2 separate regions of the Homo sapiens genome follow, and region 2 is linked to region 1. The links come from fine-mapping of genetic effects on gene expression. Tissue or cell type: monocytes after LPS. Region 1 holds a variant in brackets; the other region holds the start of a gene. All regions are shown on one strand. Distances are from middle to middle.

Region 1 (16,169 bases):
CAACTAGCTACTTGGGAGGCTGAGGCAGGATGATCACTTGAGCCCAGGAGTTTGAGACCAGCCTGGGCAACAGAGTGAGACCCCGTCACTACAAAATTAAAAATTTTTTAAATTAGCCAGGCAAATTGTTGTTGTTTTTAAATTATAGACAGGGCCTCAGCTTGCACCTGACATGAAATCTGTTTACCATTGTTATCTATTGCCCAATGACCCTGTTTTGTGGACCAGAAAAAATGAAGCTCTGTCTTTCCCAATATCACGTGCAAGTTCATGTGAAAGCAGAGACAGGCCCTCTCCACTCCCAGTTTGGTGTAATTTCACCGCCCCTCCTGGCATCTGGAGACAAGCTTCTTACGCTGTGTGGTCAGCCTACCCTCAGGACATCTAGAGAAAGAAGCTTTCTTGTGAAACTGGGCCAGTAGACTCATAGAAGACTCTAAGGACAAGAACACCTTCTAGAATGACGCAGGGGACTTCCTTAAGTTTCCTGGAGGCAAGCCAGGCATGGAGGCTCATGCCTGTAATCCCCAAACTTTGAGAGGCTGAGGTGAGAGGATCATCTGAGGTTAGGAGGTTGAGACCAGCCTTGGCAACATAGCAAGACCCCATCCTACAAAAAATAAAAAATTAGTCAAAAGTGGTGGGTGACCCTGTAGTTCCAGCTACTCAAGAGGCTGGGATGGGAAGGTCACTTGAGCCCGGGAGGTGGAGAGACCCTGAATCTAAAAATAAATGAATAAATCAATAAATACAATTTTAAAATTAAAATTGGCTAGGTATGGTGTCTCACTCCTATAATCCCAGCACTTTGGGAGGCCAAGGCGGGAGGGTACCTGAGGTCAGGAGTTCAAGACCAGCCTGGCCAATATGGTAAAACCCTGTCTCTACTAAAAATACAAAAATTAGCTGGGTGTGGTGGCCCATGCCTGTGATCCCAGCTACTCAGGAGGCTGAGGCAAGAGAATCGCTTGAACCCAGGAGGCGGAGGCTACAATGAGCCGAAATCATGCCACTGCACTCCAGCCTGGGCAACAGAGTGAGACCCTGTCTCAAAAAAAAAAAATCCTTTAAACTAAGAAACCAACATTGGTTCATTACTCTGAACTAAACTCTAGATCTTCTTCAGATTTCATCCATTTTTCTGGCCCAGGATCCCATCCGGAGTACTATGTTGCCTTGAGCACATTCTCTTTTTGATAAATACAGTTCCTGGATTACTCCCTTTCTCCTGCCATGTAATTCCTTCTCTCACTCAGAAATGAATTTGTCTGTTGTTTTGCTTTGGTCTGGCTCATCCCCTCTCCCCCATTTTACAAATTATAGTTTAGGGAAAAGTTTCACCTGATTCTATCTAATATTGTCAGCAGCCCTTGTCCACCACATTCATTTTTCCTCTTTCTGTTTTAAAATCTAGTTCACATCATCAAAATGGCCACTAGCACTTCCTGAAAAACTTGGCAACACATTTTACTGTATTTCAAAAAAAAAAAAAAGTTCTGCTTTTTTTTCCCCCGTCCCCCCACCCCAAACTTCGTTTGTTCTTTTATGACTAAGGATATTTATCTCCTGCTTGCTTTAGAAGTTTATGAGCTGCTTTTGCTTTGAATTCCAGGCCAAGGTCAGTCCTCCTTTTGTCATGATGTCACGGCCTGTTGCCGTGGTTACCCCTGTGACATCATCAGACCAATCTGGGGGCCTGCTGGGGCAGGGGGGAGAGGGGCTTTGAAACCGCTCCTTTCATCTGTCTTTGGTGAGGGCGGTGTTGCTGCTTTTTGTAAAAGTTTTTGAGAATGGCGAGACACTAAAGGGAAGAGTTAATAAGATTTACTACCCCCCAAAATGCCGCAGACCCCTAAAAGTCAGGCCACAATCAAAGGCTGCAGGCTTCTGAAGGGAAAAAGGCTAAAGGAATAAACGCATTTCCAAAAACCAGAACTCTGTATCTGTAAAAAGACCACCAGTATGCCACAAGGAGAAACACGCACGCCTGCACGCACACAGGCACACACACACACAATTGGCCCTCTCAACCAAATTGCCTCTAGATGGAATGTATTTCACGAGGTGTCCCTTGGTCTTTAATCTAATCTAATCTGTCTCTCCCTCAGCATAAAAGCAAAAGTAAAGAATCACAAACCAGGAATGCTTGGTTTGAAAGGCTTTTTAATAAAAGGAGAAAAGAAAAAGAACAAAAGCCGAGTGAACACTCAACAGACAGTTTTCATGTCACTAAAACAGCATCTTGAAAAATGTTAATCTTTTTTTTTTTCTTTTCCTTAGGGTCAGGGGAAGGGAAAAAAATGTGTTTTTATGGTGAACATGTGTCAAGAGGACTCCATCCCATAAACTCGGTGCCCACAATAAGTATATTTGTGTAGTAATTAATGTGAGATCAGAGACACAAGTTTTGCCAAAAGGCCATTGTCAGTATGGGGTACATTATTTAGGTCAAGAATCCAGTTTTCCAAATGTGGTATACATTGTGCTCGCTGTAATTAAGCGTTTTGTCATCTAACGACAAAGCGAGCAAGAGTGACTCCCAGACGGATTATACCTAAAACACAGTTTCCAAATGTTTCTTCTTGGCAAATCTTTTAAGGAAATTCTATGCAGAAGGAATGTCAAGACATCTGTAATTAGATCTGGGAGAAAAGGGTGGAAGGAAGATTACTGGGCTATTTTTTTTATTTTGTCTCTCAAAGAGACCCCCTGTAATTCCACGTCCTGGCTGTCAAGAGCCTTATCCATCACGGGTTCCTGGGTCATCTGTCTTTGCATTCACTTTCTTGCCGAGGTCTCCAGTAACACCCTTGCAATGCCAATTCTCCTCCAAGAAGTTTACTGCAAGCCGCTGTGAAGACAGAACGGACAGCGTCCAAAGTGCCTTGGGCCAGGCCCGTTCTTCGAACTCGGTAGATTTTGTTTCTGAAGGTTTCTGCTTTGTCATGCGCCTGGAGGTCTTATTAAGAAAGTAGAGGCCAGGCGCGGTGGCTCACGCCTGTAATCCCAGAACTTTGGGAGGCTGAGACGGGGGGATCATGATGTCAGGAAATCTAGACCATCCTGGCCAACATGGTGAAACCTCGTCTCTACTAAAAATACACAAATTAGCTGGGCGTGGTGGTGCGTGCCTGTAACCCCAGCTACTCGGGAGGCTGAGGCAGGAGAATCAATTGAACCAGGGAGTCGGAGGTTGCAGCGAGCCAAGATCACACCACTGCACTCCAGCCTGGTGACAGAGGGAGACTCTGTCTCAAAAAAAAAAAAAAAAAAAAATGCCGGGCGCAGTGGCTCACGCCTGTAATCCCAGCACTTTGGGAGGCGGGCGGATCACGAGGTCAGGAGATCGAGACCATCTTGGCTAACAGGGTGAAACCCCGCCTCTACTAAAAATACAAAAAATTAGCTGGGGATGGTGGCGGGCGCCTGTAGTCCCTGCTACTAGGGAGGCTGAGGCAGGAGAATGGCTGAACCCAGGAGGCGGAGCTTGCGGTGAGCTGAGATCATGCCACTGCACTCCAGCCTGGGCAACAGAGCGAGAGTCTGTCTCAAAAAAAAAAAAGAAAAAGAAAAAGAAAAGAAAGCAGAATGGAGTGCAGTTTGTAGGTCCCAGGGCTGCAATTTGGAAGACATTCATATTGCAAGGGAAATTGAAGAGGGAGCTAAAAGGATCCTTCCAGCACTGTGCATTTCAACTTTTTGGAGGGGCCGCAGCAGTAGGGGGGTGCATATTGGGGTGCATAGCCCCATCTGGGTCTGATGTTGGATGTTGGTTTGCATCTGTTTCTAGTTTTGTATGTTGGTATGGGTCTGCTTGTGCATGAATATGCTCCTGTACGCCTGTGGGTCTTTTGCATGTGTTTGCAAGCGTGTGATGCCTCGCTGTGCATGGGTCTGGGGGGGGGGGGTGCTGTCTCTGAGCATATTGCTGTGTGTGTTTCAAAGGCCGCTATGTGCTTGCCACACGCTCGGGGGCATTTATAACTTTATGTATGTGCATGAAAGAGCAACTGGGAAATATACTGCATTCATTATACTTTATACTCCCTTTTCCAACCAACAGGCTATCTGCAGACCTCTCAGCTCCTCATCACCCAAATACGATCTTAGGGGGTTCACAAAATAAAACAGGTCATAAATCTCAAGACTGGCTAGAACCTGGGGAGTTTTAGACAGAGAGAGGAGGGGGAAGGGCGGCAGGAGGGAAGTGGGTAAGAAGGGGTATTTTGATGAGGAATCTCTGCCCCTTCATGAAGCACTTCTCCGTGATGCCAACTTAGAGGCAATTTGCTCTTAGTACTAGGTGGGATCAGTCCAAGCGTTTGGGGATTTCTCCTCTCACTCGACCCCCTCCTCTTCTCCGTGCTAACAGCCAAGAACAGATGTGCCCCACTTTAATAATGCTGACCAGCTGGGGAGGCTGCAGCAAATGTCCACAGTTTTTTCCCCAAATGCTGATGTCTAAGGAGGCCTCTGGGATGAAGACAGGGGTCTCTCAGGCACATTTTGGGATCCTCCTGCTTCCAGAACCTTCCTCAGGTTTCCCTGAAAGAGGACACTAAAGAAAATATGGAATGCCTATAGTCTGTGCTTTTGGTATCCATGTGGCTGCATTGGTGTCCATTATGACCCAAGATGCTACAAGTGTAATATTCTGGGGTCCTCTGGACTGAGATGGGACCAGCATGCGTGAATAGGATTCAGGACAGAGCCGCGAAGCCACGCTTTCCATTAATTAATTAATTAATTAATTTTTAAAGGCAGGATCTTGCTTGTTGCCCAGGCTGGAGTGCAGTGGCACGATCATAGCTCACTGCAGCCTTGAACTCCTGGGCTCAAGTGATTCTCCCACCTCAGCTTCCTGAGTAGCTAGGACTACAGATGCACTCCACCATACTTGGCTAATTTTTTTTTTTTAAGTAGAGACGGAGGTCTCACTATGTTGCCCAGGCTGGTCTCAAACTACTAGGCTCAAGCCATCTTTCTGCCTCGGCCTCTCAGTGCTGGGATTACACATGTGAGCTACTGGGCTGACTCACTTTCCCTTTATTTTTATTTTTATTTTTTTTTAATAGAGAGACAGGGTCTCATCTCACTATGTTGCCCAAGCTGGTCTCGAATTTCTGAGCTGGAGTTCTCCCACCTCAGCCTCCCAAAGTGCTAGGATTACAGGCATGAGCCACCACACCCAGCCCCATTTTCCTTTTAAATGGCTGAAAAGAGGCAAGCTCTGATTGTCGCCCACGTAGATTATTTTTTCCCCTCCAGAAGATGAAAAGGGCCATTTGTTTGTAGAAGTCTCAACCTGGCATATTGGTCCATTTCATGTGTCAGTTTGCAGTTTTCTCTCCTCTGAAGGGCTGCTTGGGGAACACAAAGGCAGGAAATTCGATTCTACACAGGCCCCGTGACATCTCTGTTTGAGGGTGTGTGTGTGTGTGAGTGAGTGTGTGTTTGTATGGCGGCTGACAACGTGTTCTCTTCAATCAGATCATTGCTTCATGGTCTTATTGTCCCTGCAGCTTTAGAAACAGCTGGGGGGATTCTGTAAGAATCATTTGAATAAAACTTCTCATAAACTGTCCACTACAGAGTTTGGGAAGATAAACCTGTACTGTTAGGATTTTTTTTTTTTAAGACAGTCTGTGCTGATTTTCCAAATGTATTTCTTTAATATATGTGCTCCTCTCAGCACATATATTCCTTTTTTTTTTTTTTTTTTTTTTTTTTTTTTTGTAGAGACAGAGTCTCGCTCTGTCACCCAGGCTGGAGTGCAGTGGTGAGATCTCGACTCACTGCAACGCCTGCCTACCGAGTTCAAACAATTCTCCTGCCTCAGCCTCCCAAGTAGTTGGGAACACAGACATGCACCACCACACCTGGCTAGTTTTTTTGTATTTTTAGTAGAGAGGGGGATTTGCCATGTTGGTCAGGCTGGTCTCAAACTCCTAACCTCAAGAGATCCGCCCGCCTTGGCCTCCAAAAGTGCTAGAATTACAGGTGTGAGCCACTGCGCTAGCTTCAGCACACATCTGCTTCTAATTCAGGTGCAACATACACAGAAAACTACACACATAACATATGCATACCTAGCATTCAGATTAAAAAGAAACAGACATCCCCAGAAGTCCCCACAGTGTCTCCTTCCAGTCAATATGCACTAGGATAAAGCAACCACTCTCCTGACATCTAACAGAATCGATTAGCTCTGCATATTTTTGTGCTTTTCATCAACAGAACCACACAACATCACACTTGAGTAGCTGGCTTCTTTCCTTCAAAATTAAGTGTGTGAGGCCCGGCATGGTGGCTCACACCTGTAATCCCAGCACTTTGGGAGGCTGAGGTGGGTGGATCACCTGAGGTCAGGAGTTCAAGACCAGCCCAGCCAACATGGTGAAACCCCATCTCGACTAAAAATATAAAAAAATTAGCCGGGTATGGTGGCAGGCACCTGTAATCCCAGCTACTTGGGAGGCTGAGGTAGAAGAATTGCTTGAACCCGGGAGGCAGAGGTTGCTGTGAGTCGAGATTGCCCCACTGTACTCCAGCCTGGGTGACAGAGCTAGACTGCCTCAAAAAAAAAAAAAAAAAAAAAAAAGTAAAAAATGGGCTGATTCAGTAGTATCTCGTTATTACCAAAAGTATCTCATCAATACTGAAAAAAAAAAATTAAGCACGTGAGATTCACCACATTGCTCTATGTATTTGTAGATCGATGACTTTTCAACTGGGATTCATTGTGTGCGTCAGGGGATGTTAGACAACGTCTGGAGACATTTTTGGTTGTCACAACTGGGGGTGCATCTAGTGGATGCAGACCAAAAATGCTGCACAACATCTTACAAGGCCCAGGACAGCCTCCCTCCCCGCCGCCCCCCGCCACACACAAATTACCCAGCCCCAAATTTTAATAATGCAGAGATAAAAAATTCCAGTTTGGATCCATCATTGTCCTGGCTGTGCTTTGATTCCTCTGAAACACCATTTTTAATACTTCCTGGATGCCTAGGCAGGCACAGTGGAGTTAGCCTGAACTTCAAGTTCAAAGCTTCAGCTCAGAGGCAAGTTTACTGACCTCTAGTTTTATCCCCGAGGTGGGGGCAGGGAGGGTGGAAGGGTATTGGGATTGGATGGGAAGATGGAAGGGAGCAAAGGAGGGTCTTTCCCTAATGGTTTCTTAATCTCGTCTGGTGATGAATTTGACCTTAGAAGGACGTTGCAAGCCACATCTGCCTCTCTGGCAAGCAGGGGAAGGAAATGACAGAA[A/C]AGTTCTTACAGAGCCACACCGATGTACACAGACATAAACAGACAACCGCACAAGTCCAAACAGACACCCCCCACAGCTCTGAACACACACATACACACGCACGCACACACGCACGCGCACACACACACACGCACGCACACACACACGCACGCACATACATACTCACCAGCCAACACCCGGCCACACAGCAGGCCCCAGAGACACACGCTAGAGGAGAAAAGAAACACCAACACTGTCCTTAAAGGGGCCTCTCTCCACATCCAGCTATTTAAAGAAATAGTTAAGCCGGCCAAGTTCAAGGAAACCCAGCCAGCGCAATGACCACGTCTGTCTTGTTCTGTCTTGTCGTATAACGCTTGGGCCTTGTCGTATAACACTTGGGCCTAAACTCAGGGTTTCTCCACCTCAGCACTCTTGATATTTCCAACTGGGTAATTCTTTGTTATAGGAGCCGGCCTGTGCATTGCAATATATTTAACAGTATCTTTGACCTCTACAAACTAGATGCACCCCAAGTTGTGTCAACCAAAATTGTCTCTAGATATTGCACAATGTCACCTGGGGACATCACCCCTAGTTGAGAACTACTGACCTAGCACTGCAGTGGGCTTATAGAAGCATCCTCCAAATGAATTTTTTTTTTTTTTTTTTTGACAGAGTCTTGCTCTGTTACCCAGGCTGGAGTGGAGTGGCACGATCATGGCTCACTGCAGTCTTGACCTCCCAGGCTCAAGCAATCCTCCCACCTCAGCCTCCCTAGTGGCTAGGACCACAGGCCTGTGACGCCACGCCTGGCTAATTTTTTAAAGTTTTTGTAGAATTGGGGTCTCACTATGTTGCCCAGGCTGGTCTTGAACTCCTGGGGCCAAGGAATTCATCCTCCTCAGCCTCCCAAAGTGCTGGGATTACAAATGTGAGCCACCATCCGTAATCCCAGCCCCACATGAAATATGTGTTGATTCAATCAATGAGCCACTCTCATTCCTTCTTGAAAATAAATGGGGACCAGCTACAGTGGCTCACGCCTTTGGGAGCACTTTGGGAGGCCGAGGCAGGTGGATCACCTGAGCCCAGGAGTTCGAGAACAGCCTGGCTAACGTGGTGAAACCCTGTCTCTACTAAAATACAAAAATTAGCCAGGCATGGGGGCGGATGCCTGTAATCCCAGCTACTCAGGAGGCTGAGGCAGGAGAATCGCTTGAACCCAGGAGGTGGAGGTTGCAGTGAGCCAAGATGGTGCCACTGCACTCCAGCCTGGGTGACAGAGCCAAACTCCATCTCAAAAAAAAAGAAATGGGCTCCTAAGAAGAGTCAGCTGATCTCTCCTCTTCAGCATCGACATACATCAAGAGTTAAAAAGAAAACAAAGTCGGGCACGGTGGCTCACGCCTGTAATTCTAACACTTTGGGAGGCAGAGGCTGGCGGATCACTTGAGATCAGGAGTTTGAGACCAGACTGGCCAAAATGGTGAAACCCCATCTCTACTAAAAATACAAAAAAAATTGGGCAGAGTGGCACACGCCTGTAGTCCCAGCTATTCAGGAGGCTGAGATAGAAAAATTGCTTGAACTCAGGAGGCAGAGAGTGCATTGAGCCAAGATCATGCCATTGCACTCCAGCCTGGGCAACAAGAGTGAAACTCCATCTCAAAAAAAAAACAAAACAAAACAAAAACAAAAAAAACAAGGCCAGACGTGGTGGCTCACAGCCGTAATCCCAGCACTTTGGGAGTCTGAAGCGGGGAGATCACCTGAGGTCAGGAGTTCGAGACCAGCCTGACCAACATGGAGAAAACCCCGTCTCTACTAAAAACACACAAAAAATAGCCGAGCATGGTGGCGGGCACCTGTAATCCCAGCTACTCAGGAGGATAAGGCAGAAGAATCGCTTAAATCCAGGAGGTGGAGGTTGCGGTGAGCTGAGATCGCGCCGTTGCACTCCAGCCTGGGCAACAAGAACGAAACTCCATCTCAAAAAAAAAAAAAAAAAAAAAAAAAAAAAAAAAAATTGGAGATAGGTCCTAGGCTTCTTCCTCTACCTGGAATCCCAGCCTCTGAGACTAAGGCTTATGCTGGATTCTGCCTGGGTGGGGGCCATCTCTGCCATCAATGACGACTCTTGAAGAAGCAGCCCCCAGAGAGATGCCTACGCCACATGTGCTCTGTCATTTGATTGACGGACATGAATGCACTTTTCCGGACGCTGATTGGGTTTTAATTGTGTTTGGAACATTGTGCTCCCCACGCACCAGCTGAATTTGCTTCTGCATTCAGAAATGTTTTCACCTTCTCTTTTCTCTGGTGTGTCTGCCATGCTGCAGTTGGTGGCAGTGAGAAGGGCGATTGGGACCAGACAGTGCATCTGTGGAATTTTCCACACATTAGCCAAACCGGATCTGGAGCTTTCTTTGTTTTTACCCCTCTCCCCCGAGGACATATGAGTCTGGAAACAGGCTGGGAAGTGGGACTTCTGGCAGACTTAGCTGTAGGCTTAGGTGTCTACTGTCTGCATGTGGGAGGTAGGTCAGCCTTCTACCATCATCTCCAGCAACTGAAGGTCATACAGTCATTCAGCAAACATCCTCCAAATGACAGAGCATATCAGGCACTGAGGTTACAGAGATAATATACCTGTTTCTGGCTTTCACGTAGCAAGAGAAAGACTACAACAGCTCATTCAAGCATTTATTTTCAGGTAGTCTTCTGTACACTTTATAAATACTCACCCAATGAATCATAAAAATAACCCTATAAAATAGGTTTTGTTTTTTTTTTTTTCTTTTTTGTTGAGACAGAGTCTCACTCTATTACCCACTCTGGAGTACAGTGCTGCGATCTCGGCTCGCTGCAACCTCCACCTTGCGGGTTCAAGTGATTCTCCTGCCTCAGCCTTCCAAGTAGCTGGGACTACAGGCGAGCGCCACAATGCCCAGCTAATTTTTGTATTTTTTTGTAGAGACAGGATCTTACCATCTTGGCCAGGCTGCCCTCAAACTCCTGACCTCAAGTGATCCACCCGCCTCGCCCTCCCAAAGTGCTAGAATTACAGGCGTGAGTCACCACGCCCAGCTAGGAGTATTTTTTAACAGCTTTATTGAGAAATAGATATACAAAGAATGGGATATATTTATTTATTTTATTATTATTATTTTTTAAAATAGAGATAAGTTCTCACTATTTTGCCCAGGCTAGTCTTGAATTCCTGTGCTTAAATGATCCTCCTGTCTCGGCCTCCTAAAGTGCTAGGATTACAGGCGTGAGCTACTGCGCCTGTATATATCCAAAACTGGATATATTTAACGTGTGTAAGTTTGATGAGTTCAAATGTGTGTGGACACCCGTGCTACCACCATCACATTCAAAGTAATAGACATATCCAACACCTTCCTAAGTGTCCTGTGTGCTTTTGTTTTTGTTATTGTTTTTTGTTTGCTTTTCCTGTGATAAGAACATTTAACATGAGATCTACCCTCCTATCATATTTTGAAGTTCACAATACTGTATTAACTATAGCACAATGTTGTACAGAAGAGCTCTGGATCTTACTCATCTTGCATGACTGAAACTTTATATCCACTGAACAACACCTCTCCATTTTCCCCACCCCCAGCTCCTGGCAGCCACTTTGCTTGTTTATTTGTTTGTTTGTTTGTTTTTGTAAGATATAGGATCTCACTTTGTTGCCCAGGCTGGAGTGCAGTGGTGCAAACATGACTCACTGCAGCCCCAACCTCCTGGGTTCAAGCGTTCCTCCCACCTACGCCTCCCAAGTAGCTTAGGGACCACCAGTTAAATTTTTTTATTTTTTCTTTTTTGTAGAGATGGTCTCTCCCTGTGTTGCCCAGGCTGGTCTCAGGCTCCTGGGCTGAAGCGATCCTCCTGCCTTGGCCTCTCGAAGTGCTAGGATTACAGCTGTGAGCCACCACGCCTAGCCAAAAACTTCATTCTTTTTCTTCATCACCTTTTTATATTTTTTTCTGTATGATCAATGTTACTTTTTTTCCAGTTTTATTTGACAAACACTGGGAGAATAGGTTTCTCTGTTTCCATCCTGTCTAGACCATGGACTCATTTTGGTAAATCATGAAACAATCATCATGAATCTAGATCTGGCTCTAAGCTTCAGGTTCACAGCACACCCGACCACAGACTCTCTCCACATAGCTTTAGACCTCACCCTAGAGCACGGACTTTGCGGCTATAAGGCAGAGAAAACTCCCCTAAGACAAAACTGGAGCATGGGCCAGGCACGGTGGCTCACGCCTATAATTCCAGCACTTTGGGAGGCTGAGGCGGGAGGATCACTTGAGATTAGGAGTTCAAGACCAGCCTCACCAACGTGGTGAAACCCTATCTATACTAAAAAAAAAATCCACAAAATTAGCCGGGTGTGGTGGCACATGTCTGTAATCCCAGCTACTTGGGAGGCTGAGGCAGAAGAATTGTTTGAATCTGGGCGGTGGAGGTTGCAGTGAGTTGAGATCGCACCATTGCACTCCAGCCTGTGCAACAAGAGCGAAACTCTGCCTTAAAACAAACGAACAAACAAACAAAACAAAACAAAAAAACTGGAGCATGGTTCAACTCAAAAGCATCCCATGATTCTAGTTACAAAGCAGCGTTCTCAAGGGTGCAAGTTCTAATGCTACAGAATGTTTCTTCTTGGTAAACATTTCTGGAATCAAGATTTAACCACTGGCCACCGAAGAAATGCCCCCTGGAAGAATCTGACTCAGTCCGTCATTTGCCAGCCCTGCATCTATTATGACCTGTGCAATAACAAGGGTTTACAAAGATGCCCCACTGCCCTCCCTTTATTTGGGTTAAATGGACATAAATTGTGAAGGCCTCTCTGCTGGAGACTGGGAATTCACAGAAGGAATTCCTAGTCCCTGCACTGTGGAGCTCAGCACTGACTCCATTTGCAAATAAACAAGTCCTTCCAATTTTCTAGCACTTTACAAAGTAGGAAGCATCTGCCAGACAGAGGCAAGAGTTGAACAAGAAGCCAAGTCTAGCATGAAGGAGTCCAAATGTATCTCCTAAACCAAGAGGCCAGACCACACAATAAGAAAAGTTAGGGGCCGGGGGCAATGGCTCATGCCTGTAATTCCAGAACTTTGGGATGCTGAGGCAGGTGGATCTCCTGAGGTCAGGAGTTTGAGACCAGCCTGGCCAACATGGTGAAACCCTGTCCCTACTAAAAGTACAAAAATTATCCAGGTGTGGTGTCACACACCTGTAATCACAGCTACTCAGGTGGCTGAGGCATGAGAATCGCTTGAACCTAGGAGGCGGAGGTTGCAGTGAGCTGAGATCACACCATTGCACTCCAGCCTGGGTGACACAGTGAGATTCTGACTCAAAAAAAAAAAAAAAAAAAAAAAAGTTAGGAGCAGGGATTGGAGACATAAGAGACCGGTGAGATCTGGGAAGTTAGAGTCATAGGTGAAGGCAATGCCCAGAACAGGCCTAGCTGTAATGAGAATGTTTTGGATGCTATGCCTAAACCACTGCTTAGCTGATGCAACACCCAGTCCCAGCATCCCTCTCCCTTCCTGCCGCCTACCATGAGTCTAAAAAATGAAAGATTCACCTTCCTGGCCTCTTGGCAGTTACAGTTGACCATGTTGCAGAGTTTGAGCTAATAAAATAAAGTCTTGCTCCATCGCCCAGGCTGGAGTGCAGTGGTATGATCTCGGCTCACTGCAACCTCCACCTCCCGTGTTCAAGTGACCCTCCCATCTCAACCTCCTGAGTAGCTGGGATTACAGGCACTCGCCATCATACCCAGCTAATTTTTTGTATTTTTTGTTTTTTAAATACAGACGGGGTTTTGCCATGTTGGCCAGACTGGTCTTGAACTTCTGACCTCAAGTGATCTGCCCTCCTCAGCCTCCCAAAGCTCTGGGATTACAGACATGAGCCACCACACGTGGCCAAGTTTTGATTTCTTATAAAGGAGAAATGCTGAAGAGGAAAGCCTTCTTTCTGGTGCCACTCCTTTGTCTTAATGGCAGAGATGTGATGCCTGGAGCTTAGTCAGACATCATTGAACAAGAGGCAAGCATGAGAATAACAAGAGAAAATACTGAAGACGGTGGAAGTGTAATAGAGAAAACTGGGATGCTGGTGACCTCACAGGGCAGCAGCCCACCTCTGGACTACTCATCATGTGAGAAAGATAGGCCCCTCGTCATTTAAATGACTGTCAACTGGATTTTCTGCTACCAAAAGCCGGGTGTGGTGGCCCACGCCTGTAATCCCAGCATTTTGGGAGTCTGAAGCAGGAGGATCACTTGGGGTCAGGAGTTTGAGACCAGCCTGGCCAACATAGTGAAACCCTGTCTCTACTAAAAATATAAAAATTAGCCGGGCGTGGTGGCCCGTGCCTATAATCCCAGCTACTTGGGAGGCTGAGGCATGAGAATTGCTTGAACTCGGGAGGTGGAGGTTGCAGTGAGCAGAGATTGTGCCACTGCACTCCAGCCTGGGTGACAGAGCGAGACTCTGTCTCAAAAAAAACAATAACAAAAACAAAAACCTTCTGAGCGTATTTGAATTTCCATCTTGCTAAACAGAGTTGTGGGTGGGGTGGAGCACCTTTGTTGGATAGGCTGTGGGTAGGAAGCAAATGTCATCTGATAAAAGTGTTGGCAACTAAGCTGAGAGGTGTTTGTGAACAACTGGAAATAAGCTACCTATACAACTGCAGGGGGCGGGTATTAGCTAAAGCCTGGTGTGTCATAAAATTTCAATTCAATTTAATTTTATTTTTTTTGAGGCAGGGTCTCACTTTGTGCCTAGGCTGCAGTGCAGTGGCACGATCGTGGCTCACTGCAGCCTTGACCTCCTGGGCTCAAGGGATCTTCCTGCCTCGGCCTCCCAAGTAGCTGGAACTACAGGAGCACACCACCACACCCAGCTAACTTTTAAATTCTTTATAGAGACGAAGCTTGACCATGTTGTCCAGGCTGGTCTTGAATTCCTGGGCTCAAGCAATTTACCCACTTTGGCCTCCCAAATTAATTGCTGGGCCTATAGGCATGAGCCACTGAGCCTGGCCCATGATGCCTCCTGACAGTGGAACACAACTGAGCTCCTGGTGTAGAGACAGATTTATTGGCATGGAGAAGCACATTCTATATTGCTAAGCTTTGTAAAAGCAGGTTAGCAAACAATCTGAAAAGAGAGATCTAGAAAGGTGTTCACTGGGGCTGGGTGCGGTGGCTCATGCCTGTAATCCCTACACTTTGGGAGGCCGAGGCTGGCAGAGCACGAGGTCAGGAGATCGAGACCACCCTGACTAACATGGTGAAACCTCATCTCTACTAAAAATACAAAAAATTGGCCGGGCGTGATGACAGGTGCCTGTAGTCCCAGCTACTCGGGAGGCTGATCCAGGAGAATGGCGTGAACCCGGGAGGTGGAGCTTGCAGTGAGCCAAGATTGCGCCACTGCACTCCAGCCTGGGCAGCAGAGCGAGACTCCGTCTCAAAAAAAAAAAAAAAAAAAAAAGGTGTTCACTAGGAGGTCAATAGTGGGTACAATTTGGGTTTTTATTGTTCTTGTTATTTCTGTATTATTTAAATATATTAGAGGCTGGGCGTGGTGGCCCATGCCTGTAATCCCAGCACTTTGGGAGTCCAAGGTGGGTGGATCACTTGAGGTCAGGAGTTCGAGACCAGTCTGGCCAACATGGCGAAACCTTGTCTCAACCAAAAATACAAAAATAAATGGAGCATGGTGGCATGCACCTGTTAAGTCCCAGCTACTCAGGAGGCTGATGCAGGAGAATCACTTGAACTTGGGAGGCAGAGGTTGCAGTGAGCTGAGATCACACCACTGCACTCTAGCCTAGACAAGAGTGAGAGACTCCATCTCAAAATATACATATAAATAGATAGATAAATATACTATGTGTAGAATATATTATAATATTATATATGTATATGTATATGATTTACCTGATAAATAGAACCATTGACAGTATATGTGATATGTGCCTGGTACAGTGGCTCATACTTGTAATCCCAGCACTTTGGGAGGTTGAGGTGGGAGGATCTCTTGGGCTCAAGAGTTCAAGACCAGCCTGGGCAACAGTGAGCAAGACCCCATCTCTACCAAAAAAAAAAAAAAATTAATTAGCCAGGCATGGATATGCACACCTGTAGTCCCATAGTGGTGCACACCTGTAGTCAGGAGGCCAAGGTGGGAAGATCACTTGCGCCCAGGAGCTCAAGGTTACAGTGAGGTATGATCACACCACTGCACTCCAGCCTGGGTGACAGAGTGAGATCCCATCTAAAAGAACAAAAAAGCAAGCTGGACTTCGCGGCTCACACCTGTAATCCCAGCACTTTGGAAGGCCAAAGTGGGTGGATCGCTTGAGCCCAGGATTTCGAGACCAGCCTGGGCAACATAGTCAGCTCTTGTCTCCTTAATAAATAAATAAGTAAATAAATGCAAAAAAGTATATGCGATACAATCTTATTTTCATTTAAAATGCATATACCATACACAGAAGAAGACTAGAAAGATATATGGTAAACTATGAATGGTTAGCCCTATGTAATGGGATTACAGGTGATTTTCATTTTCTTCTTTTTCCTTATCTGCCTTTTCTACTTCTCCTATAATGAATATATATTACTTGTTTAATTTTTCAAGTGTTGTTGTTTAAGAGCTGCTCCTCTTATTATGTTTGCCAAAGCCTCAGAGCCTCCATTGGGAAATACGTTAATCCAGTCAAGATCTTCTTGTCCTGGAAACAAACTCCAGGGCTGGTCTACTGTGATTTTAAGTATCTAGGAGGATATGAAATTAGGGGAGGGTGGGAGTCCCCCATTTTCTGGTCATTGTCAATTTTATAAAGATGGCAGCCTAAGGAACTCCCTAA
Region 2 (16,169 bases), 77 kb after region 1:
GCAGCGCCCCCCACTTCCCCATCCATCCATGCTTGAGGTACCAGACTCAGACATGTGGAGAACTCGTATTTTACCGTCTGAAGACAAGGAAAGCCTTTCAAAAGCAAATGTCCCCCCCACATCAGAAGTGGAAGGAAGTTTCCCCTCCCTCCCAACTCTGCGCGTTTGGCTTGCAAGGGGTGAATGGGAAAGAGGGGTGTCGGCACTAGAAGCCGGAGACAGGCTCCAACTCCCTGGGCTGGCAGCGTAGGGTTGACCTGTTTATAAAACTTGCTGCTAAGAAAACATGTAAAAACACACCCCAGCGGTGGGAGAGGAGAACTCTCCCTCCCCGCAACCCTCCCGGCTTCGCGCACGAAGATTCCCCCGCTCGGCTGCGTTCTCTCTGAGCCTGTTATTCTCCCGAGAGCCATCTCCTTGCAATTGCTTTTCCACCACTTTGGGAGACAGAGAGTCCTACATTTCTCTTTCATTTTTGGTTACTCCTCCCCGCCCCCCACGGCTCCCCGCAAGGTCTTTACCGTCCACTCCCGATGTGTCCTTTGCAAGCGAAGGGAGGGGGGAAGGTAGCAATCAATGCGGCAGCAAAAGACAAATCGGACAGGGTAGGGTGGGAGGTGGAGGTAGGTGAGCGGCTTCTAACTGAATCCCTGCAATCTTGATCTTAGTTCTCAAAAGGAAAAAGACCTGCGCTTCGCTGCCCTGGGTCCGCCGTGCTTTCTTCATCCCCCACCCGGGCAGCCCGCCGCGCCGCGCCGCGCCGCGCCGCGCCCCGCCCCGGTAGCTGGAGAGGGAAGGCAGGTACCCAGCGCAGGGTTACCTGCAGGCGGTTCGCCGGTTCCCGGGCCTGTCGGGACCTTGTCGCGACCGAGAGCTGGGGAAGGACAGCCTGTCCGAGACCTCTTTGCTCTCCTGCGGGCCTGTGCAGCGTTTGGGGCAAGATCCGAGCCCTGTCACCCCCTTCCACCCTTGGGTGAGAGTAGAATCCGAGGCCGTGAGCTGCTTCTCCGGTTCCGTGCTCAGCGAGGCCTGGATCCGCACCGAGGCGCGTCCAGCTTACGTATTTGCAACAGGGGTAAGGGGTGGGGTGGGGGATCTAGGTGAAGCCCCCCGGGGCAGAAACATGGCCAAAAGGACCTTATGGGACGCTCTGGGCTGTCGCTCACTCCCAACTCCTTCCTGGGGCTCGAAATCTTCCTTTCCCAAGCGAAAGGAGGAAAGGGCGCTGCGAGGGAAGACAGAGGGCAGGTTCCCGATCCAGGAAGGCCGGTCCTCTCCACTCGCCTGGAGGATTTTTAGTATCTGGTTCAGAGATGAAATGAATTGAGGCCCGGGCGCCAGTAAAAGCAACTACTAGGAAAGGCACTTTCACAATTCCAAACATTTTCTCTCTTTCTGCGTGTGTGTGTGTGTGTGTGTGTGTGTGTGAGCGCGCGCGTGCGCCTTCCTCATTCCCCTTCCTCTAAAATAAAAAAATTTTTGAAAGGAAGAGAAAACAAACTTATCTAGCCCTCATTATTCAAACCCCAAGCTAAAGACTTTTAAGGGCTTCTGGGATCTCTCGGGCCACAACCTTCACCTAACCCTTTATTCGGAATGGGAGAGGGAATAGTCTCTCCAGTCGGCACTAATCGGTCCCTGGATATCATACAAGACTTGGGACATTTTAAAATATGTAGAATTTGTTTGTATTATTTGGAGCCGGGATGATTGATTTGGGAGGGACACATCCCAACTCAAAATACAGTCACATTGTTGAGGCCTCTAGTTTCTTTTGCTGACGTGGAAGGAGGAGGAGGCTACGCAGAGTGTCATGAAATTAAGACCGACACCCTGCAGCTACTCTTCTGCCCAGTGGTCTGTGTGGCCATGGTACAAAGTCAGTGATCATAGAAGGTGGAGGGGGTTGGAGGGCTGGTGCTCAGCTCAAGTTTGTGTGAAGTGAGTTTGGCCAGAGAGTTTGCCTGGTTGTGAGACCACTGCTCGGTGACAGGGCAGGCCTGGGGTCAAGATCCTGAATCCAGGACCTACATCCTGACCTTGGCAGCAGATTTTCACGTCTTCTATTTGCCTGGCACCCCCCAGAGAAGCAAGATCACCACCCTGTGTTCTAGGACCAAAACAGGATAACTGCACAGAAGGCTAGATTTTTTCCATAGGGGCATGTTACAGCAGGAGGGATTGCATCTGTTTTCAGTGCAACAGTAAAACCTGGAACCCTTCAAGTGCTCACACTACCCCAATTCCTGTGCCCATCTCGAGAAGGTAAATCCTTCCCTCAAGCCTTAAGTGCCCCCAGGACAGCTTCATCTCTAGGGGGCATCAGTAGGTATGATGTTATCACCTTCCTTCTCTCCTCACCCTAACTGGATTTTCAAGACATGAAAACATTTGCTTTGGGAACACGGGTGTGCTGGGTGGCTGGCAAGAAGTGGAGGGAAGGTTGCAAGAAGGAAATGGAAAGAAGAGGGAGGAAAAACACACATGACAACTCTGTGCCCACGGCTCCCTTTCATTTGCATCCTGCTTGGAAATAAATGAACCCCCAAACACCAGTGAACTTTCTACTCTCACTCTCTTTAATTGAAACCCAGTACGGGAAATAGTAATGGATATTGTGCTCAAATTGAGAAAACGTGTCTGGGGCTACGAGGGGAGAGTTAGTTCAGCAGATTTGGAGGAGCTGATCTTTCTTTGGCCTGTCAACCTTCCTGACAGTGTGGTCATTTAATTTGCTATGCCCTCTTGCTTACAGATCTTCCTGTGCCCTCTGCCACATATGCTCCCCCAGGGCGAAACCCCACTCTGCCCCACAACCCTGCCACCTAACAACACTACCAATGATAAGGGAAAGAATGAAACAGTAGCAAACCACAGAAGTAAATTCTCCCATTTGAATGTCACCCTCCGTCTGCATGAGAGGACTGTTAAATTTCTCCTCCACCCTCTTAAAGTATTCTGTCACTTAGTCCCTCTACCCTACAAGTAAAATTTTGATACAAACCTCTGAGAGGCCACTTATACCCTTACCTGTCTCGACTGAAAATCTAGAAAGAGGATGTTGAAGAAAGAAAGGTGCTGGGTGGTCAAAAGTGCCTGGGGCAAAAGTCAGCTCTGGCCTGTGTCTTGGTGGTTCTGGGTCAGATAAAATGAGAGAAAAAATTCCTGGCCCCTTCCTTGTGAATTCATTTCTGCTGGCCTAATAATGCCCATTGCATTATCTTTTTTTTTAAAGTAATTAGGTAAAACACACACACACACACACACACACAAAGAGAAGGTTGAAGATATAGATTGACTTGAAATTAGGAAACCACAATTGGTTCCCTTTCCTGAGAGAGGAAAAAACCTTCACAGATGTAGAAAAAGCACTCTCCCCAGACACACACACATCCTTCAATCTTACCTCTCTCATTTCCCTTCTAACTTATCTAAATCACTGGCTGTGTACAAATTTGCCATTTTGCAGGGTGATCAGCTTTGAGGAAAGGTAGGTGCTAATAAGAATAATATGGAGGGCAAAATGTTTTCATTTTGCCTCTGCCAAAAACATATTTACATTAAGGAGGTATGATGAGCATGGATTAAGTGCATAGCGAATGATGCTCTAGAAACGGCATAAACCAACTGGCAACAAACTGAGCCTCTGTACTAAAAATATTGCTTCTCCAAGCTAGACAACTTTCAGTCTTCTCTCTCTGAAACATGCTACAGACGCTTGCACCAAATTGCCCAGATCAATAATTTAGAGGAATGTCAGAGGATAGGGGAAATGTGTGTTACAGGAAAGCTCCGTGCTGCTGGGGCAAGTAGGAAGCTGGGAGCTGGGGGCTATAGAGCTCCCCACCCTAGGTTCCTAGGTTAACTTGCAGCTCCTCACCCTAGGTTCCTGCTCTGGAAAAGATGGGGAGGTGGCCTTAGAGCTTAGGGAGCAAAGATGGGGTTCAACTCTGGAGAAAGGGGTGGCTTTGGAAATGCCAAGAGGAGAAGGTAAAACTGCCACTCTAGGCAAATGCACACAATGTTTTTCTATCTCTCAAGATACTTTATCTTTCTAGTCAAGGAAGAGAGGGGAAGGTGTTTGCTTCAGCCCCAGGAAGAGGGATCTCCAGGCTGTCATGGTTGCTGGGAAAGATGAGGGAGGGAAAGGGGGCAGAGTACGGAGGCACCAGGTCAGAAAGACAGGAGAGAATTCAGACAGGACCAAAACAGCCAGAAAAAATAGGATAAAGAAGGTAGAAAAAAAAAAAAAACAAAACAAAACATGAGAAGTTAAAGCCTGGGAAATAGATACAAGACAAGAAAGAGAAATAGAAACCAAGAACAAGATTGATGAAAGGAGGAGAAGAGAAAGTAGAAGGAAAAAGAATAAGAAAGATTCCAGACACGCATTCAAATAATCCTAAATGGGGATGAGCAGAAAGACAAGGAGACCAAAAGAAAAGGGGGGGGGGGGGTGGTGGGGAGGAGAAAGAAAGGAATGGAAAAAGAAACAAAAGGTGAATGTCCTGCCCTGTCTGTCTGGTCCAACCAAGAAGCTAGTGTCTGCCCTGGAGGGAGGAAAGGTGGGGGAGTCCAGCCTGTCTCCAAGGGACTGACAGGCAGCTTCTGGACCAGAGAGGAACTAAGCTCTCAAAGCAAGCTTTGGGGAGGAGGAAGGGATGGGGGTGCATGGTGAGTGGAGACTCCTGGAGGAAGAGCAAGCCTCCACTGGGTTCAGCACTGCCAGGGGGAGAGTCAGGGTTCAGGGTAGCATAGCAGTGCTAATGTATGTACCCCAGAGGGGTAGGGGGTGCTAGGGCAATTTGCAGGAGGACCACAAACAGTAAACTAGAGAGCTACTTCCCTGGGATCCGTGATAAGAAAATCACTTCCTCAGGTGGGAGAATTGAGCCCGAAAGAGAATGGGAGCCCTTGGGGGGCAGGCACCTGGTCAGTTTCAAAGCTCGTCAATATCAAAAGAGGCTGGGATCCTGAGATCAAATGGGCTGGGGCACTGGGCAGAAACGAGGAGCCATTGCCAAACTGCCAGGATGACCAGAACGCCCCTCCCCCAGGAAAAGTTCATATATGAACCCACCCCTGTATGAAACTTCTTAATTAGGTCTCATACCCCCGGTGAATCTTGGATGCCCTTCTGTCAACAGAATTCCCAATTTAGTGACACCTCGGACTGAAAAGAGCTCTGCGGCAAACGGGGGTGAAAGTTTAAGAGGGAATAAGCATATAATACTCCCTTGCCAGACCTCACACATGCTGAAGGGAATATTTACAGCAAACTGGCCAAAGCAAACGACCCCGCCTACCCACCATCCTTTTACCCTCCTCCCCGCCCTTTTTGTAAACTCCAGATAAACACCATTTGATCACAAAAGGGTCGGTTTGTCCCCTTTATAGTTTGAGGCAGGCAGTGCGGCAGGGAAAAGTGGCGTGGGCTAAGCTTCCGTCTCGGGCAAGGCCAGCTTCTTTGCTGGCACCGTGGCCTGGGCTAAGGACAGTTGATTTGGTTTTGTTTCCCCCGACCCCCACCCCGACCCCACCCCCACAAAGGAACATTATTTTCAGGGTCCTCCCCCCACCCAGCTTTAACACTCGCCTACTTGCACCCGCACTACTTTAAATGCTGCGGGCATTGCAGATAGAGAGGTTTTTCAGTTAATTTACTTTTTTAATTCTAGAGCTACAATTAAGTGAAAACTCTTTTTGCGAAAAGGTGGAGGAATATTTCAGAGACGCCAGAAATTATCTGGGTCTTTTCTGACCCGGAATCTGCCCTCTTTCTCCCTTCTCCTCCCCTTAAGTCACCCTTTTCTGGGACTCTGTTGAAGGGCAGGCTCTTTCAACGTCTCTAGTCTGTCTTTTGTTGAGTGTGAGACCGAAGGAAAGAGGATCGAGGGGTCTGCAGAGAGAAAAAGACCGCAGATAGCCGGCAGCTGGCGCCTAATGCCGGGGTCCGGGGAGCGCTGGCCTCGTGGGTTCTCCTGGAGGCCAGGCCCAGCACAAGCCTTCGGAACACGCTGGCCAATGTTTAACCCGAATGCAGTGGCCACCAGGCCGCTTTTGTTTGTTCGCAAATTAATCACCCAGCGCATGGCCGGCGCCAGAGTGGGTTTATCACCCACCGGGAGGGGGGCGCGCCGGGCACGCAGAGACAAAGAGGAGTTCGCACCTTCCCGCTTTTGATCCCAGAATTACGGCGGCCTCCCTGCCTAATACGAGCCTCCTGGGGCCGAGTCTGGGAGGTCAGTCATAATTGGCGGAAGTTTGCAGACCATTAGCAAGATGTCGACATTTTCGATTCGAACCCCGCAAACTTTCCTCTCGTTCTCTGCTTCGCGCGCTGGAGGTTGGTGTGGGAGAGGAGATGGGGGTCAGAAGTAGCGATCTGGGGTGATCACAGGGTTAAGTTAGAGCTATGGGCAAAAAATAGGCAATTGAGGGAGGAGGACAGTGTGAGGGGCAGAACTCCCTCTCAGTCCACCCGCGGAGCCAAAAACAAATCTAGACATTTTTAAGTAAAATCCGCAAGCTCCCCTCCCATTTCCAAAGCTGACAGCTGGCCAGAATGCAGAGGAATGTCTCTCTGCTGTGCGTGGGACGCTTGGGGGCACCGAGTGGGTGAGGAGGAGGTCGGTCACAGTGTGGTTGTAGAACTACTTTGCTTCCACCCCAAGTAGTGGGGCAGAGATTGGCCTGCGAGGGCAGGCAGGCAAAACCAGATCGCTGGGATTTGGGGCCGCTCTTGAAAGAGCAGCGAAGGGGCCCCAGGCCCCGGAGGCGAGCAGTCTGGGGGAGGGGGTGCACTTTTTTTTTCTATTTCTTTCTTTTCTTTTCTTTTTCTTTTTTTTGGGGCGGGGGTCCCCAGAGACTCATGAAACCCTGCAGTGACTTCCGTGTTCTGTGTAAGGCGGGAAATGGCCTGGCCTTTCGCACCCTTCAGGTGGGGAGGAGGGGATGCGGGAGGGGGTGTTATGAGCCAACACTCTGGGGCACCACCACCTCGTAATTTTCCCTCTCTCTCCTTTCTCTATTTTAACCACTGGCAGAGACAGAGAGGACGCCAGAGAAAGACAGACTGAAAGGGAAAGAAAGGGGCGAGATGGCGAGCCAGACGGAGTTCGCAGAACCACACTATTCTCTCTGGTGACTTCAGGGAATTCTCAACGCTGGCGCCAAGCTCTCTTAACCATGTGCGTCAAAAATGCGAGGCTGGAGAAGCCTGTCGCCTCAAAAGATCCTCCCCTATCTCAGCGTGGTTGGCCCACAAGAGCACTTCATTTTCACCCTTCCCTTGGTGCCACGTTGGGGTTTCGGGGTTGCTGGGGGTTGCGCGGGTGCACAAGGCAAAATGCGAGAGAGGCCTGTGCTGGCCTACAGAGACACACACATCCAAAGCCCTGAGTCTCTTAAACCCCTAAGCCCCCAGATCAGCCCTTTCTCCGTTCCCTTTCCATCGAAGAAGCTTTCATCTCAGGAAAGATAAAAGAACATTGTTTTCAAGATTTCCCTCCATCTAAGCAAGGATGGTCCAAGACATTGGCCCCCAGAATCAAGAACTGTGGGCTTAGGCGAATCCTCTGACCCCGACCGGGCGCTGCGGTAACAGAGTTGGTAATTCGGCGATTGGTAAGATCCGGTCGTTTCCCTCCCGTCCGCCTAAGAGGAGGCCCCCACCCTACCCGTACTAAAAACAGTCAACTCGCCTCTGAGGTGGGGGCGTTTCACGGTTTGTTTTACAAATTCACCCTCCCTCCCCGACTTCTGGCCAGATTAAGTCCCCGGGGTGGAGAAAGAACTGAGGCACCGAGAGATAAGTGCGATGCCTAGAGAAGATACCAGGCTGGCGCGCCTCCCCCAACCCAATCGCCCACCCCTTACCCTGTGCTGTGCACCCAGCCGGGCCTCGAGGTGAGGGCAGCGGCTTGGAGGGGACAGGCTCAGAACCCAGTCTCTCGCTGTGCTCGCTTTGTCCAGATCCTCCATTCTCTTCTCTACACCCACACCCACATCCAGGTGGAATATGGGGGCCCGCATGCAAATGAAAGACGAGATCCAAAAGGGCTGGTAAATGCATTTCATAAAAATCCCAAATCCATCTTCCCCAGGAGCTCAGGCAGGGCCAGCCGCGCAGGCTGTGTACGTGTTTGTGTGTACGTGTTTTTCGGTGTGTGTTTCAGTCCCAGTGTGTTGGCGCGTGTTCGAGTACAGATACACCGGGGGTGTTTGGGTACCCGCACATGGCTGCGGGTGGGGCGCAGTGGAGAGGAAGCCCACACATGCGTGTGCTGAGATATGGCCGCATCCTTGTGCTCCCCCAGCCCAGACGCAGGGGAGACCAGCACCGAGACACCCGAGCTCGGGAGCCCTTCAGCGGCGGCCGGGCGGAGCTTGGCTCCACGTGGGGCTGGAGAGCACGCAAGCCTGGAGTCTCGGCGCTCGCTTCTCGGCTGCCGCCGGCTTTTGTAGAACCGAGTGGCCGGATGGCAGCTCGCGGGGAGGCTCGGCCACCCGCCCGGCTCGCCCGGGGCGGGGAGAAGAAGGAGAGCTGGAGAGAGAACCGGCCGCGGCGGTCGGAGAGGCGAGCGGAGTGCAAGAGAGGCGAGCGCCCCTGCCCGGCGCCCGGGCGCGCTCTCCGCCTTCCCCGCCCGGCTCGCCTGCTCGCTGGCTCCCTCCCTCTCTCCCTCCCCCTTCCTCCTTGGCCCTGCCTCCTCCCTCGATCCCCGGCTGGATGACTGAGGCATTTCAGACGTGGGCTGAACCAGAGCGAGCGAGCGAGCTCAGGGGCTGCAGCGATCTCTCGATAAGCCACCTAGAGGCGACTCTGTGCGCGCGCGCTCCCCAGTGGCTCCCGCCCGCCCTCTGATCATGTTGACATATTCACAGGACAGGCAGTAGTACCGATGCGGCGCTGCGACGTTACAGTTTCCGACACCTTCTTTTTATAACTCAGCTCTATCCCCCAGCACTCGACCTGTGAAAACCACGCCTATGCAGCAACACAATTGGTCCGAAAGCGTCAAAGAGCCAATCAAGAGGCCTCCGGCTCCCCGCAGCCCACAGCGCAGCCCGACCTTCTAGAGCCGCCGAGCAGACGCCCGGTGAATTCTAGAGGCGGCGGAGGGTGGCGAGGAGCTCTCGCTTTCTCTCGCTCCCTCCCTCTCCGACTCCGTCTCTCTCTCTCTCTCTCTCTCTCCCCTCCCTCTCTTTCCCTCTGTTCCATTTTTTCCCCCTCTAAATCCTCCCTGCCCTGCGCGCCTGGACACAGATTTAGGAAGCGAATTCGCTCACGTTTTAGGACAAGGAAGAGAGAGAGGCACGGGAGAAGAGCCCAGCAAGATTTGGATTGAAACCGAGACACCCTCCGGAGGCTCGGAGCAGAGGAAGGAGGAGGAGGGCGGCGAACGGAAGCCAGTTTGCAATTCAAGTTTTGATAGCGCTGGTAGAAGGGGGTTTAAATCAGATTTTTTTTTTTTTAAAGGAGAGAGACTTTTTCCGCTCTCTCGCTCCCTGTTAAAGCCGGGTCTAGCACAGCTGCAGACGCCACCAGCGAGAAAGAGGGAGAGGAAGACAGATAGGGGGCGGGGGAAGAAGAAAAAGAAAGGTAAAAAGTCTTCTAGGAGAACCTTTCACATTTGCAACAAAAGACCTAGGGGCTGGAGAGAGATTCCTGGGACGCAGGGCTGGAGTGTCTATTTCGAGCTCAGCGGCAGGGCTCGGGCGCGAGTCGAGACCCTGCTCGCTCCTCTCGCTTCTGAAACCGACGTTCAGGAGCGGCTTTTTAAAAACGCAAGGCACAAGGACGGTCACCCGCGCGACTATGTTTGCTGATTTTTCGCCTTGCCCTCTTTAAAAGCGGCCTCCCATTCTCCAAAAGACACTTCCCCTCCTCCCTTTGAAGTGCATTAGTTGTGATTTCTGCCTCCTTTTCTTTTTTCTTTCTTTTTTGTTTTGCTTTTTCCCCCCTTTTGAATTATGTGCTGCTGTTAAACAACAACAAAAAAACAACAAAACACAGCAGCTGCGGACTTGTCCCCGGCTGGAGCCCAGCGCCCCGCCTGGAGTGGATGAGCCTCTCCATGAGAGATCCGGTCATTCCTGGGACAAGCATGGCCTACCATCCGTTCCTACCTCACCGGGCGCCGGACTTCGCCATGAGCGCGGTGCTGGGTCACCAGCCGCCGTTCTTCCCCGCGCTGACGCTGCCTCCCAACGGCGCGGCGGCGCTCTCGCTGCCGGGCGCCCTGGCCAAGCCGATCATGGATCAATTGGTGGGGGCGGCCGAGACCGGCATCCCGTTCTCCTCCCTGGGGCCCCAGGCGCATCTGAGGCCTTTGAAGACCATGGAGCCCGAAGAAGAGGTGGAGGACGACCCCAAGGTGCACCTGGAGGCTAAAGAACTTTGGGATCAGTTTCACAAGCGGGGCACCGAGATGGTCATTACCAAGTCGGGAAGGTAAGCAGTGGGGGCCTCCTCCCCTAAGCTGTTGGAGAGTTTTTTCCTCCCTTTATTTCTCTGCTCCCAGAACAGTCGGTTGGTCGGTTATTACGGCTTGGACGAAAAGTTAGTTCCCCTAGAAATGTATGCACAGACTTCCAGGCCCTGCCCCGGTGGCAGGAAATTTCAGCTTACCTGGGCATCTGCATGGGTCTTGCATTTGGTCTGCATCCTGGGTTCCCTCCCGAACAGACAGAATTTTTCAGTGGAGCACAGACATCCCTGCAGGGAGCAGGAAAGAAAAAAAAAAAAGGCACTCTACTGCAAGAAACTCACTCTTCAAACCCTCCTGGAACATCCTTATTTCTTTGTTGATGTTGTGTTGTCTGTTTTATTTTGTTCTCAGAGAGAAAAACTTAAAGCCCTTTCCTTTTGTGTGGGTATTGGGAGGCCTGACACCATTCCCCGGCCCTTTCTGCCCTCCAGTCTAGCCTCTGGGTCTAAAGGGGCCTGCTGCTGCCCTGGTCAGAGAGAAATCGAAGGGCATTTTGGTTTGTTTGCCCACACTACTTCACGTGTCTGTAACCCAAGGGCGAGTTCAGCAGGCAATTTTGCATAATTTAAGATTATGTTTGCAGACTTAAGGAGCCAGTGAGGAGACACACACCTTTTTTTTAATGTGTGAATATTATCAACCATATTTTACATAATGTTTAAAGGTCCTTGCCTGACCAAAACCTGCCTGGAAGAGAAGATCCTGTAATAGTCATTTAAAATCACTGATTTTTTTTTTGTAATAGCATTGAAGCCTGTAAAGGCATAAAGTTGATACAAAAATAAAATCCCCTTCATGATATCTTAAGCGTTCTGTCTCCTTCCAAGCTAAATGAGGCCAAAGTTTGGCATAAAATCCTCCTCAAACTCACAAGACATTTAGTCAGTTTTCCAGCAAAGTGCTTCCTTGCTTCCTTTTAAGTCAAGACTACAGAATGCCAACCCTTCTGTGAAATTAACAGCAATGTGGTGGCACAGTCTTGCGGTTTTGGACTGGCCTAAGAAGTGGGGGAATGTGTTAGCAGCTCCACGGGCAGATCGGTTATCAGGCCCAGGAGTGCACCGAAGTCTGCAAAATTCGTTCTGGGAACTCACTGAAGTCCAGTTTCACTTCGCCCACAGCGGGATTGCTATTCTGCAGCAGGGAGGGGTGCAACTTGACGTTCATTTCCTTGATAAGTTTAACATTTTCTCATCAATGGGTGGTGGAAAATTCTAGTCTTAACTGACCGCGCTTTACAAAAATCTTACCCCAACCTGTTTAGATCTAGATACCCACAGAAAAAGACATGGGCAAGAATTTGCTCTCAGGAGGGCAATCTGTAAAGTCAAGCAAGGACAAAAAAAATATTGAAGAAATTGTTAGACAATGTAGAGAATTGCAGTGCCACAATGCATTTGTTTTGAACCTTGGGACGTCTAAATATGGCGAAACTGAGAATATTTAATACGTTAGTTGTGGAAGAAAACGATTTTGCAACCAGTTGCCTCACTCTGAAACATGTAAGCTTATCAGTCACAATATAAAGTCTTAGACTTGGTTTCAATATTATGTGATACATAGGAAATCAAACCCAAGATTACGGGTGGTTTATCTTTCTTTTTCTTTTCTATTCTTTCGTTTTATAGGCGAATGTTTCCTCCATTTAAAGTGAGATGTTCTGGGCTGGATAAAAAAGCCAAATACATTTTATTGATGGACATTATAGCTGCTGATGACTGTCGTTATAAATTTCACAATTCTCGGTGGATGGTGGCTGGTAAGGCCGACCCCGAAATGCCAAAGAGGATGTACATTCACCCGGACAGCCCCGCTACTGGGGAACAGTGGATGTCCAAAGTCGTCACTTTCCACAAACTGAAACTCACCAACAACATTTCAGACAAACATGGATTTGTAAGTTTCATTGCTCTCTTCAGTAAAATTTTCTCCTCCTTCACTCAGTCAAAGGCAGTGCTTCCCATTTCATGAGTTTCAGCCCAGACTTCTCCTTTGCTTCTCCCTAAGCATAGCAAACTTGTCCTCGTCTGGAAAAAGGATTCGGGGTGTTTCTCTCCAAATAATGGAAGGCCTGGCGTTCTAAAAGAAATGGGGCAAGAAAACTTACCGGCTTGTGTTCTATAGCAATTCCAGCTCTTTGGTAGATTCCTGACCTGAGAGTGAAGTTAAAAACCATTTTTTAAGAGCTAAAATCAATTTCAAGGCTATGTATTCCTAAAGGATTTGTTTTGTTTTAAAATATCATACTTCTGTTTTGAAACCAGTGATATTATTTTCTCAGGAGAGTTTACGTTTCGGAGCCTTGACTCTGTTGGTTAAATGGTGTGAATACATTTTTAAAAACTCGTTCTTTTACTAAAAAAAGAATTGGGCTTAGGTGGGAGTCCGGCTTACCCTAAATGAGGCTTAGATCTTCAGAAAAAAATGGTTTGTGTGTTGGGAGTGTATATATGGATTCAGTGACAGTGCTTAGAAACTTAGAAAACTTTCATTGCTTGTAGATATCAGGCAAAGGACCTTTTGCGCCTTTTCCTACCCCTCCCCAACATTTCAATAAAATAAACAGCGTGATAAGCAAGGAGTAAGCAGAAAGATTAGGCCCAGGAAGACGCGAATGGCGCGGAAATATCTTCAGCGGGCAGGAATTGCATTTGAAGCCCTTGATTTGATTAAGGCATAAATATTCCTCTCTAGAGTTCAGCCTTTCAGGGCTTTAAGTGGATTGGGCTCGTCAATTAGTGGGCGCTTAAAGTACTGAATCATTTTGTAAATTAAAATGCATGTTTTTCTCTATCTTTTAAGACTTTGGCCTTCCCAAGTGATCACGCTACGTGGCAGGGGAATTATAGTTTTGGTACTCAGGTAGGCTAGGGTTCAAGGTATGAATGATCCTTAGATGGTGAGGGTGGGGGGGGCCCTTTGGCAACTGAGGAGCAATTTGGATTCTCCAGAAGATAACATCTGTGGAGCGAAACGTACCCAGGGGGTACTCCAAGGAGGTGGGCTCGGTACAAGCGTGGTACCCTGCGGTGGGGAAGATTTCAGCCTGGCAGGGGTCCTAAGATCCCGTTTGTTCTGCTAAATCCTTGTTTTATGTATGTCTCCTCTTCCCTGCCCCTGCAGACTATATTGAACTCCATGCACAAATACCAGCCCCGGTTCCACATTGTAAGAGCCAATGACATCTTGAAACTCCCTTATAGTACATTTCGGACATACTTGTTCCCCGAAACTGAATTCATCGCTGTGACTGCATACCAGAATGATAAGGTAAACTCAAGGGGCTTTCCTTTTTAATGGTGATATTTTGCCTTCCCCTTAAAAGCTGCTTTAAGTCAGGATGAGAAAGTTACAAGAGAGTGGAGACGAGAGTCTTGAGTTGTCTTTTGTGATTTGTGGAGCATTTGGGGGGAAAGGACAATGACACCTCGAGGAGACAGAAAAACACCTTGACTAGGTAGGAACAATGCTGAGCAAAAAAACGCCATACTAATTTTGCCACAGAGAAACTCCTAGAACTGCTGTCATTGATGCCACCCACTCCTCCCCCCCTCTTGGGCTTTGTCCTGTCTGTTTTAAGGTTCATCTTCTTCCCCTTGGGGAAGAAGGATCAAGAAGTCACATTCAAAAGGAACCAGCTAAAAATTTAAGGCAAAAGCCATTTGGGATCCTGGGAGGAGAATCCTAGTAGAGACCAGCTTTTCTCCCCTAGCCAGAAATCCTGAGTAGCTGGTCTGGTTTTTATTACCTTTTATGCTGCTGTGTTATGATGTGTGTGTGTGTGTGCATGTGTGTGCATGCATGCGTGTGGTTGGAAAAACCTACCCTGATCACAGGGTCATATTAATCGAGTTGTCTGAGGCTTTTGAGTTGGGGTGGCCAAAGTCACCACTTCATTTGAATTCCCCCCCTCCCCCAGGCCTGAATCTGGAGGTTAGAAGGATCCCCAAAAGGGAAAGCACCTGATATCTAGAGCTATGGTGGCCTGAAGGTCATGGGCACAGAAAAAGTGACCCTTACTGCTGATTCACCAGTTCCCAGATTGGCTGTTAGCAGTTATGGGGTGGGAGGAGGGACTGAAGACCCCTGCTCTGCAATCCTGGACTTCAAAGAGAGTCCATTTTACCTGACAACACACTTCATTTTGAACTCACTGTCATTGTCACTGTCCTTGGGTCCTCTGTGGACTTCATGATGGGGATGTTCCAGCTAAATTTCTTTAGTGTGAATACCAAAACATGATCTTCTCTCCCTGTGAAACCTGAAGTCTTCAATAGAGCAATTTATTCCAAGAACATGAATCCAACCAAGGGTCCCCCTTTCCACCTCTGAGTAACTCTGTGTATATAACTTCTTCTTCCCACCAAGGGGAAGGGATTTGAAAGATTACACACTATAGCATTTTTCTCAAAGTGCAAAATGCATGTGCCCTCTAGACCCAGAATCCTGTGAAATGAAGTTGTTAATGTAATAATAAAATGTAGCATTTTTGATCAGACAAAAAGGCCATGGGCCTTCTCCACCTAATGGCCATGGCAGAGCATATAAATGAAAACAGATGTTTCCAGTGGTCATTCAGTACTGTAACTGTCAATATTGTAATTTCCTCAAACCACCCCCCAGGCAAAGAAAAAAAAAATTAAACTCACTCCCGCACTCACTCCCGCACAAGGGTAGTGAAACCCCATAAATCATTTATTGGATTCATGGAAAAGGAGTGTGTGTGTGTGTGTGTGTGTGTGTGTGTGTGTGTGAAGGGAGTATGCTATAATTTATGATTAATTGCACTGTATAAAAATCAAAATGAAAGCATAATTTTAAGATCTACAGGTTTTCCCTCTTGATGACTTTGACAACACTTCCATGTCTAAACCCAAACTGTTGGCTGCCCAAAGAAAAGAATTTCTTTGAATAATTTCATCCCCAAATCCCTGGTTTGGCCTCATATAGGAGATACAAGCCCTGCCACAGTTTCCTTATTATCTCCTTTCCCTGGCATATCTATATGACTTCTGTTGGCAGTCACATCTCTAGACTTGTTGAGTTGGGAAAAACACCCTCAAAACATTCTAGAAAATGAGAACAATGTCTCTGTCTTGCTTGTGTCTCTTCCAATAGATAACCCAGTTAAAAATAGACAACAACCCTTTTGCAAAAGGTTTCCGGGACACTGGAAATGGCCGAAGAGAAAAAAGGTGAGTTGAAACAATTATTTATTAGATAGTTTAGAAAAATCCCTTTTTTTAGGATCCAACTCTGAAGTGTTAGAAGTGAGATGCAGGCACTTATCCTAAGAGCGGGTGGAAATCATTCACTTTCCCCACTGCTACATGCTTGCCGCTATCAGTATACCCAGGACAAGTACTTTTCCTACCTCCTTACCTTTAAGGAAATTAACTAGGCTACACCATACTTATCTCTGGAAGAGAAGCATCAGGGATAATAGATTATACAGGGATGCCTATTAATTCCTAATTAATTTAAGTTCATCCTAGGCAGGTCCCAGAAAGAACCATGCCATTGAGAAAATACTTGGGAATTTTTGCAATCCTGTCTTCCAAATACCATCAGACAGAGCTGGGGACTTCGGAAAGATGTATGGCTCTCTCCCTCCTTCGTGGGGACATGTATCATTTTGCATTACGTAGACAGCTGGAGAGTATATGAAAGAGGGTCTCC

Alleles and levels. Positions count from the first base shown, and alleles are read on the strand shown. Sizes are in standard deviations (SD) of each study's normalised expression.
As copies of C replace A in region 1, the expression in monocytes after LPS of the gene that starts at base 9,090 in region 2 goes up (large effect, 1.6 SD a copy in Fairfax 2014).

The links.
Region 2: it holds the start of TBX3, and the variant in region 1 is fine-mapped to the expression of TBX3 in monocytes after LPS (Fairfax 2014, PIP 0.95). The same link has a PIP of 0.9 or more in monocytes.

Annotation. Positions count from the first base shown.
Region 1 is chr12:114,753,966-114,770,134 of GRCh38, reverse strand. TBX3-AS1 (TBX3 antisense RNA 1) reads right to left here. Exons shown (of 2, transcript NR_187552.1): 2 at 2,147-2,851. Among named protein-coding and RNA genes, the nearest start is that of TBX3, 78 kb to the right of the region's middle. The variant A/C (reference allele first, on the strand shown) is at 7,270.
Region 2 is chr12:114,677,096-114,693,264 of GRCh38, reverse strand. It overlaps TBX3 (T-box transcription factor 3), which reads left to right and starts at 9,090. Exons shown (of 7, transcript NM_005996.4): 1 at 9,090-10,453; 2 at 12,119-12,386; 3 at 13,614-13,760; 4 at 15,609-15,685. The coding sequence starts at 10,065. TBX3-AS1 (TBX3 antisense RNA 1) reads right to left here and starts at 10,973. Exons shown (of 2, transcript NR_187552.1): 1 at 10,631-10,973. RefSeq lists enhancers at 127-421, 5,565-6,415, 5,770-6,676, 6,416-7,268 and a promoter at 8,579-9,088.